Homo sapiens: one gene and its partner. The protein of the gene in region 2 purifies or fractionates together with the protein of the main gene of each other region. This does not show direct contact. Each region holds a gene or a part of one and is shown on either strand. Other genes may lie near its edges.

Evidence for each region. The genes of interacting proteins can lie anywhere in the genome.
Region 1: the proteins of RCSD1 (region 2) and COLGALT1 fractionate together in Homo sapiens (co-fractionation; one large-scale study listed by BioGRID). This does not show direct contact.

The regions. Positions count from the first base shown.
Region 1 is NC_000019.10:17,553,647-17,558,628, reverse strand, and holds the start of COLGALT1 (procollagen galactosyltransferase 1 precursor), read right to left. Parts: upstream 2,981-4,982; 5' UTR 2,916-2,980; coding exon 2,656-2,915; exon of another isoform or gene 2,094-2,655; coding exon of another isoform or gene 2,083-2,093; intron 1,203-2,082; exon of another isoform or gene 1,185-1,202; intron 1-1,184. Other genes in the region: NIBAN3 (protein Niban 3), read right to left, coding at 4,945-4,982. UniProt on the Homo sapiens protein: Beta-galactosyltransferase that transfers beta-galactose to hydroxylysine residues of type I collagen. By acting on collagen glycosylation, facilitates the formation of collagen triple helix. Also involved in the biosynthesis of collagen type IV.
Region 2 is NC_000001.11:167,636,110-167,640,468, reverse strand, and holds part of RCSD1 (capZ-interacting protein), read right to left. Parts: intron 1-4,359. UniProt on the Homo sapiens protein: Stress-induced phosphorylation of CAPZIP may regulate the ability of F-actin-capping protein to remodel actin filament assembly.

The DNA of each region.
Region 1 (4,982 bases), on a different chromosome or scaffold from region 2:
TTGGTTCACTGCAATCTCCGCCTACCAGGTCCAAGCAATTCTCCTGCCTCAGCCTCCCGAGTAGCTGGGATTACAGGTGCCCACCACCATGCCCAGCTAATTTTTGCATTTTTAGTAGAGATGGGGTTTCGCCATGTTGGCCAGGCTGCTCTCGAACTCCTGACCTCAGGTGATCCACCTGCCTCAGCCTCCCAAAGTGCTGGGATGACAGGAATGAGCCACCGCACACGGCAATTTTTGTAATGTATAGATCAGGCCAGGCACGGTGGCTCACGCCTGTCATCCCAGCACTTTGAGAGGCCGAGGCGGGTGTATCACCTGAGGTCAGGAGTTTGAGACCAGCCTGGCCAACATGGCGAAACCCCATCTCTACTAAAAATACAAAAATTAGGCCGGGCATGGTGGCTCACGCTTGTAATTCCAGCACTTTGGGAGGCCGAGGCGGGTGAATCACTTGAGGCCAGGAGTTTGAGCCTAGCCTGGCCAACATGGTGAAATCCCATCTCTACTAAAAACACAAAAAATTAGCTGGGTGTGGTGGCGGGCACCTGTAATCCCAGCTACTCAGGAGGCCGAGGCAGGAGAATCGCTTGAACCTGGGAGGAGGAGGTTGCAGTGAGCCGAGATCGTGCCACTGCACTCCAGCCTCAGCAACGAGAGCGAGACTCAGTCTCAAAAAATAAATAAATAAAAAATATTAAAAAATGAAATGTATATATCAGAAACCAGCTGGGTGCAATGGCTCACGCCTGTAATCCCAATATGTTGGGAGGCCGAGGTGGGCAGGTCACTTGAGCTCGGGAGTTCGAGACCAGCCTGGCCAATAGGGCAAAACCCCATCTCTAGAAAAAATACAAAAATTAGCTGGGCGCAGTGGCATACGCCTGTAGTCCCAGTTACTCAAGAAGCTGAGGCAGGAGAATCACTTGAGCCCAGGAGGGGGAAGTTGCAGTGAGCTAGGATTGCACCACTGCACTCCCGCCTGGGCGACAGATGTAAAACCCTGTATCAAAAAAAAAAGTATATCTCAGCAGGGCGCTGTGGCTCATGCCTGTAATCCCAGCACTTAGGGAGGCCGAGGCAGGCAGATCATGAGGTCAGGAGATCAACACAAGCCTGGCCACAATGGTGAAACCCTGACTCTATTAAAAATACAAAAATTAGCCAGGCATGGTGGTGCGCACCTGTAATCCCAAGCTACTCGGGAGGCTGAGGCAGGAGAATCACTTGAACCCGGAGGCGGAGGTTGCAATGAGCTGAGATCGTGTCACTGTACTCCAGCCTGGGCGACAGAGCAAGATTCCGTCTGAGAGAAAAAAAAAAGTATATCTCAAAGTATATCTCATAAATCCCTTACCCTGCCTTCATCTTCTCCTGTGAGCCACACCACTTCAGTGGGCTGCAGTCAATTATTCATTCAACAAACATTTGTTAAGTACCAATTGTGTATTTGGATTATCCAGACTGAGAAATCAGGTGGAAGGAAAAGCGACATTTGGGAGTTTAGTTTGACCGTAGTGCCAAAAGCTAATTCTGCCCAATAAATTAAGTTGACAATAACACCAGCAATGACAGTAATCATGATAATAAAATCACTGAGAGCCAAGCCCATGCCAGACCCAAGGGCTCCACATCCATTAACTGGATAATCTTCAGAGACAAACCCAAAAAGAGAATTATATTAATACGCTCATTTTCTTTTCTTTTTCTTTTTTTAGAGGCAGGTCTTACTCTGTAGCCCAGGCTGGAGTGCAGTGGTGCAATCATAGGTCACTGCAGCCTCGAACTCCTGGGCTCAAGCGATTCTCCTGCGTCAGCCTCCTGAATAGCTGGGACTACAGGCACACACCACCGCACCTGGCTAATTTTTGTATTTTTTTTCTAGAGACGGGGTTTTGCCATGTTGGCAAGGCTGGTGTCGAACTCCTGAGCTCAAGTGACCCGCTTACCTTGGCCTCCCAAATTGCTAGGATTACTGCGTGAGCCACTGCACCCGGACCCATTTTCCATTTGAGAAAACTGAGGCAGGGAGTGAGAAGTCACCAGTCAAAGGTTTCTTCAGAGCTCTGCCCCATTCCCTACCAAGAAAGCATCCACTTCCTCCTGGGCCATCTGGTCCTGGACTCCACCCACGCCGGTCTGAGGGCAGGGGTTTGACTGGGGCCTGGAGCCAGGCTGAGTTCAAGCTTAAGGGCAGCAGCCGGCACAGAAAGGCTTGCTGTTAGATGTGGCCTCTGGCAACGCCCCAGTGGGGGCTCTGGGCTCCGTCCTTTGGAGGTGTACGTGCCCCAGAGGGAGTTAGAGCCCCAGTTAGTGAGGCCGGAGCTGCCCTAGTAGGGTCCAGCAGGCAGAAGCGGTGCCCAGCCCACCCCAAAGGAGCCAGCAGGAGGAACTCGGTCCCGCTTGTGTTGTGGGGAGGGCTGTGTCTGGCCCCATGGGAGGACAGCAGGCAGGGGGCACGCGTGGACCCGTCCCGATGGGGGCAGCGGGCAGGGGCATGCGTAGAACCGTCCCGATGGGGGTAGCGAGCAGGAAGCACGCGCGGACCCGCCCAGAAGAGGACAGCGGGCAGGGGCTCGCGTGGACCCACCCCTATGGGGACAGCAAGCAGGGGCTCGCGTGACCCGCCTGATGGGGACAGCGGGCTCGACTCACCATAGCGCCGTGCGCTCCCGCGGGTGCCGCAGCCGCTCGAGTGCGCCCAGCGTGGTGGGCAACGCGTGGGCCGCGTTTCGCGCCAACAGCGCGATGAGCACGCGCGGCGCCTGCAGGGGCGACTCCGGGCTCCAGCGCTCCTCGGGGAAGTAGGCGTCGGCGCCCGGCGGGGCCCCCGGCGGCAGTGGCGCCAGCAGCAGAAGCAGCAGCGCCAGGAGCGGCTGCCCGCGCCGCCGGCCCGCGCGTGGGGCCGCCGCCATCGCGCCACGCGTCTCCTTTAAGTCGTTTTTCTGCGGGAGGACTCTGGCCGCGCCTTAAAGGGGTCATAGGGGCCCCGCCCGGCCGCGCGCCTTAAAGGGGAGGAGCGCGCCGGGCGTGAAGTCCAGGCCCCGCCTCCAGACGCTCTCCGAGTCCCAAGGCCCGGAGTGACGTCACCTGCAGCCCTACCCAGGACGCCCCGCCCCCGCACCGATCTTAAAGGCACATAGCGCTCGGAGCGCGTGGAAGGGATGTTAGGGGTAGCGTTAGGGTTAGGAACCCGCGCTTCCTCCAGGCGCCTCCTACCACTGAGACCTCCGCCAGATGCGCCGCCCAATTTCCCCATGTATAAAACCCGGGCTGTGCCACCAGGCGGACTTGGCTACTTAGGACCTGGTTTGGGACCCAAGAGACCTTAGCCTCAGTTTCCTCTGCTGCAACGTGGGTTTTGCCATCCTGGTTTTGGATCTCACAGGGATGTCATTGAGGGTTGTGGAGAATAAAGGTCATGACGTCCACAGACCTGGCGTCACATTCAGTCCCCGCCTTGGGCTTGCTATATGTGAGCCTCAGTCTGTCCATCTATAAAATGAGATCATAGAGACCCTATAGGGTTGGCGTGAAAATAGAGCCAGGGCATGATAATGGACCGTTCTGGGCACAAGCTCTTCCAGAGACAAGGGCCATGTTTTCATGGAAACGCTGTCAAGGGATTGTTTTCCAATACTCTAGAGCCGCATTTTCAAATTGATTGACTTAGTATCACACTTTTTTTTTTTTTTTTTTGAGACGGAGTCTGGCTTTGTTGCCCGGGCTGGAGTGCAGTGGTGCAACATAGCAAGACCGTGCCTCTATTTTTAAAAACAATAAAAACTTTAAAAAATACATCTGAACATTATTATTATTATTATTATTATTTTCTTTTTTTTTTTTTTTGAGACAGCGTCTCACTCCATTGCCCCGGCTAGAGTACAGTGGCGCGATCTCGGCTCACTGCAACCTCCGCCTCCCGGGTTCAAGCGATTCTCCTGCTTCAGCCTCCTGAGTAGCTGGGACTACAGGCACGCGCCACCACGCCCGGCTAATTTTTGTTTATAGTAGAGATGGGGTTTCACCATATTGGCCAGGCTGGTCTCGAACTCCTGACCTCCTGATCCGCCCACCTCAGCCTCCCAAAGTGCTGGGATTACAGGCGTGAGCCACCGCGCCCAGCTTATTATTATTTTCACAGAGAGGGTCTTACTCTGTGGCTCAGGCTAGAGTGCAGTGGCATGATCACATGATCATGGCTCACTGCAGCCTCAACCTCCTGGGCTCAACTGATCCTCCTGCCTCAGCCTCCCAAGTAGCTGGGACTACAAGTGCACTCAACCACGCCCAGCTAATTTTTAAATTTTTTGTAGAGATGGAGTCTCGCTATGTTGCCCCGGCTGTTCTCAAACTCCTGGTCTCAAGTAATCCTCCCCCTTCAGCCTCCCAAACTGCTGGGATTACCAGTGAGCCATCATGCCCCGCTAAAACTTAATTTTTAAGAATGATACAGGCCAGGTGCAGTGGCTCACGCCTGTAATCCCAGCATTTTGGGAGGCTGAGGCAGGCGGATCACTTGAGGTCAGGAGTTCGAGACCAGCTTGGTCAATATGGTGAAGCCCCCATCTCTTCTAAAAACACAAAAAATTAGCCGGTCATGGTGGCGCTTCGCCTGTAATCCCAGCTACTACGGAGGCCGAGGCAGGAGAATCACTTGAACCCAGGAGGTGGAGGTTGCAGTGAGCCAAAATCGCACCACTGCATTCCAGCCTGGGTGACAGAGTGAGACACCGTCTCAAAAAAAAAAAAAAAAAGGTAAAAACAAATTTACACTCTGTGGACTTGATGAGGAAAGGTCTTTTCATATTAAGTAAGAAAAAGGAGGTGACAAGATACATCCCATCCCATCTGGAAGGATTTAGACCCAAGGGCAAACAATGTTTTTCTCAAAAGGGGCAGGATGACAAATTCTTGTAGCTGCAATTGTTCCAGAATTAACATCTACATCCCGTCCGGGGTAAAAGGAAGACAGCTAAAGA
Region 2 (4,359 bases):
TGAGATGAAGAGATCATCCTGGATTATCAACGTAGGTCCTGATCCAATGACACAGGTCCTTATAAGAGACACACAGAGGAGAAGGTGTGGCAAAGATGAGGCAGACTGGAGTGATGTGGCCACAAGTCAAGGAAGCTGGCAACCACCAGGAGCCAAAAGAAACATGGAATGGAGCCGCCCCTCGAGCCTTAGTGGGGAATGAGGTCCTGCTGACACTCTGCTTTTAGACATCCGGCCTCCAGAACCATGAAAGGAGACGTTTCTGTTGTTTTGAGCCACCCAGTTTGTGGTAATCTGTTACGGCAGCAGCCCTCGCAAACTCATACACCTGCCAACTCCACTGGCATCAGATTCTCCACCTGGGCAGCACTTCCGCACTGTATAGCAGCCTGGAGTGCCAGGCATCTCTTTGAGTCTCCCATTTGTTTCCCCAAGGAAAACAAGCATTTGGAATCATCCTTGTTCTTCTCCTCTCCAGTACTTAAATTCAGGCCTTTGTGAGGGGATTCAGGCATGACTGGACAACAGGGGCCAAGGGGCTCCCCCAGAAAGACCCCTTGAGGGCATCGGAGAAAGTAAGCCTAGTAGAACAAGGCGTGGCGCTGCAGCTAGGGTAGCTGGGCCCTCCTAGCCTCAGCTCTGGGTCTCTTGGCATTTGTTAAAACAATGAGAATGGGCCGGGCATCATGGCTCATGCCTGTAATCCCAGCACTTTGGGAGGCCAAGGCAGGTGGATCACCTGAGGTCAGGAGTTCAAGACCAGCCTGGCCAACATGGTGAAACCCCGTCTCTATTAAAAAATACAAAAATTAGCTGAGCACAGTGGCAGGCGCCTGTAATACCAGCTACTTGGGAGGCTGAGGCAGGAGAATCGTTTGAACCAGGGAGGTGGAGGTTGCAGTGAGCCGAGATTGCACCATTGCGCTCCAGCCTGGGAGACAGAGCAAGACTCCACCTCAAAACAAACAAACAAAGAAAAAAAAAACAATGAGAATGAAAATGGTTCTTCTCCCTACCCACCCTATCCCCACAGATAGTAGTGCTTGCTAGGGAAGACCTAGAGAGCTGAGCACCACTGTGTGGAGGACTTCAGAGAGCCAAGAAGACAATACACAAAAATGCAAAATCAATAAAGTCATTATATATGAGTTCATTTGAACATGCGGGTCAAAGGCGTCCTAGTGTGCTGGGAGTCAGAGGACCTTTTTGTTTGTTTGTTTTTGTTTTTGCTTTTTGTTTGTTTGTTTGTTTTGAGACGGAGTCTCCCTGTGTCACCCAGGCTGGAGTGCAGTGGCGTGATCTCTGCTCACTGCAACCTCCGCTTCCCGGGTTCACGCCATTCTCCTGCCTCAGCCTCCCAAGTAGCTGGGACTACAGGTGCCTGCCACCATGCCTGGCTAATTTTTTGTATTTTTAGTAGAGATGGGGTTTTATCGTGTTAGCCAGGATGGTCTCAATCTCCTGACCTCGTGATCCGCCCTCCTTGCCCTCCCAAAGAGCTGGGATTACAGGCATAAGCCACCGCCCCCGACCAGGACCTTGGTTTTAACTCTTGACTTGGCTACTAACTGACTTTAAGTACGACCATTGGTAAATTGCTTATGTTCAATTTCGTCATCTTTAAAATGAAGGGGATGGAAGAAATTGCTATGGTTCTTTCTTGCTCTCAAAACTCCAAAGCCCTAAAAATGAATTTGGAAAAGTCTTCCTGTTTTGCTTTAGGTGTGGGCACCAGTTTCACCCAGAGACACAACTGGGGCCTTTCAGAAGTCTTTTAGCTGTGCAGAGGAGGGCTCGGAGTAAACCTGTGCCAGGCCTTACAAGCACCAAGCCTTGAGCTGGCTGGCCTCCACCACAGCCTGGCCTGAGCTGGAGGAAGACTGGCCAGGCTGAGGAGCCTGTTGTCTCCCCGAGAGCCCACACAGGTGCTGTGGGGGAAGCCAGAGTTTCTCCAGAGCAAGAGGAAGAACAGGGACAGGATCCCACCGGATAGGGTAGGTTCAAATGTTAGAAGGTTGGTAATTACCTTCTAGACCCTGGGCACATCATTTAAGCATCTCAAAGCCTCAGCATCCTTTCCTAGAAGACATAATATGACTTTATGAAGATTAAAAGAAATAAATCTGTGCACAGCATCTATATATAGTAGGCATTCAACAAGTGGTAGTAATTACCATGACAACAAGCTTTAGGTCTCTCCCACACTGACATCGGTGTGGCTGCTCAGAAATGAATTTCCCATTATTCATCAAAACATATCTGTAAAGGATGACAAGCCAGGAACCTGAATCCTGGGAATGTGCTTCAGAGATGGAGGTCGTGGTGGGCAGCCCAGCAGGGTGGGAAAAGCGTACATTTAGCTCACGCATTGGGAATGAACTATTGAAGGTGGAGGGTCTAGCGGGGAGGCTCAGAGGAGGCCCAAAGCCTGCTGCGGCACATTGTGAGATGCAAATTCTCTGTGACCTGTGGCGTGGGTGCTGGATTGTGCAATAGCAGCCACAAGGCCCAGCGGCACTGCTTACTGGGTTTGGGCTGATGCATGTGGTTGGCTGCTGCTCTACAGTCCACCCTGGTGCATCCCTTGTCTGCCTCTGGGCAAGCAGGAGAAACGCTGACTTTTCAGGGAGTGTACAGGAAGTGTGGCCATAGTGGAAGGAATGAGCGGGGCTGCAGGTGGAAGTGTGAGTGGGAACAGAAGGGGTGTGTGTGTGTGTGTGTGTGTGTGTGTGTGTGTGGTCTATTCCTAGAGCCCTCTTTCTGTCAGAGAAGGTAGGAGGACTTGGGGTGGCTTTTTGGTGAGCTTGAACAAAGGCATTCCCTCGGGACCTGGAGCCTATTTCAAATCAACTTCTCTAGCAGGAGCCTTTGGGGCAGGCCCCAGGCAGGCATGTGCTGCCATTAGATTGAGGTCTCCTGTGTGTTCTGCACCCTAGGGCTGCCAGGAGGTGGGGGAAGAGCAGCACTTGTGGAGGAATCCCCAGCACAGGAAGCTAGTTTTCTCTACCTTGTATTAGAGGAGCTTTTGAACGCCCACATACCTTAGAACTTATCAAGATTCTATCTTGCATGTTTTTATGTCATGTCATTTGGGTATATCTTGTTTCCCCAAATAGAATGAGTTCCTTTTAGGGCAGGAACTGCAACTTACATTTCCTGTACTCCCCATCTAGTCCTCAAATATCTTTATCTTGCTTTATCCTCCAGGAATGAACTACTTATTATTTCCCATGCACACCGTGCTGTTTCTTGCACCAGTAGCTTTGCTCTTGTCACTCTTTCTGATTGGAATGCTCTTCCCAATTTTCTGCCCTTGGTTAACTCTTACTCACCCCTCAAGATTCAACTCAGAAATTATTTTTAGCAGGAAGCCCTCCCTGAGCCCCAGGCTGATGCTCCTCCTCTGTGGGTGTAAGCTCTCATCCCTGCTCTGCAATAATCTGTTTAGGTGTTTGTCTCCCCTCTTAGACTGCAAGTTCTTCAAGGGTCAGCAAGCTGGTAGATACGTACCCCTTTAGATCCGCAGTGCCTGGCAGGCAGTAAGGGCTCAGTGTGTGCTTACTGAATCTAACTAAAAACCTAGTGCATGGGCCAGGCGTGGTGGCCTGTAATCCCAGCACTTTGGGAGGCTGAGGTGGGTGGATTACCTGAGGTCAGGAGTTCAAGACCAGCCTGACCAACATGGTGAAACCTCATCTCTACTAAAAACACAAAATTAGCCGAGTGTGGTGGTGCATGCCTGTAATCCCAGCTACTTGGGAGGCTGAGGCAGGAGAATTGCCTGAACCCGGGAGGAGGTTGCAGTGAGCTGAGATAGTGCCATTGTACTCTAGCCTGGGCAACAAGAGCAAAACTCCGTCTAAAAACAAACAAACAAACAAAAAAAAACAAAAAGAAGCTAGTGCATGGCATGCCGTGAATCATTAATGATTAATTATAAAAGATTCAGCCTGGGAAAGAGTAGTGATTGCTACCTCGAGGCCAGGAGGTTGGCCCTGACATGGTACAAACAGGTTCAAAACAAAGGGCTGGAGACATCTATGATGCTGACTCAAATTTTTGGCTGGAGATAATGTCTGTTCCAATGTCCAGAATTTCTCAGTGCCCCCACCTGACTGCTCTAGCTTGGAGGCTTCTAATACTATTCATTAAGGATAGGCTCTAATGGCATCTCAGAGGGGTCTCTTACAGAGGTAAGGGCCCTGCACCTCTCTTAGGGACTCATTGGGATTTGGAATTGCACTGGCTGGAGGCCCTTCCCATGGAATAGGATTTGATCCATTCAAATAAATGGCTCTACAGGGTGAGCCTCATGGGCTTAGCCAGCTGTTTCCACAATTCCCAGGAGATGGGTATTCA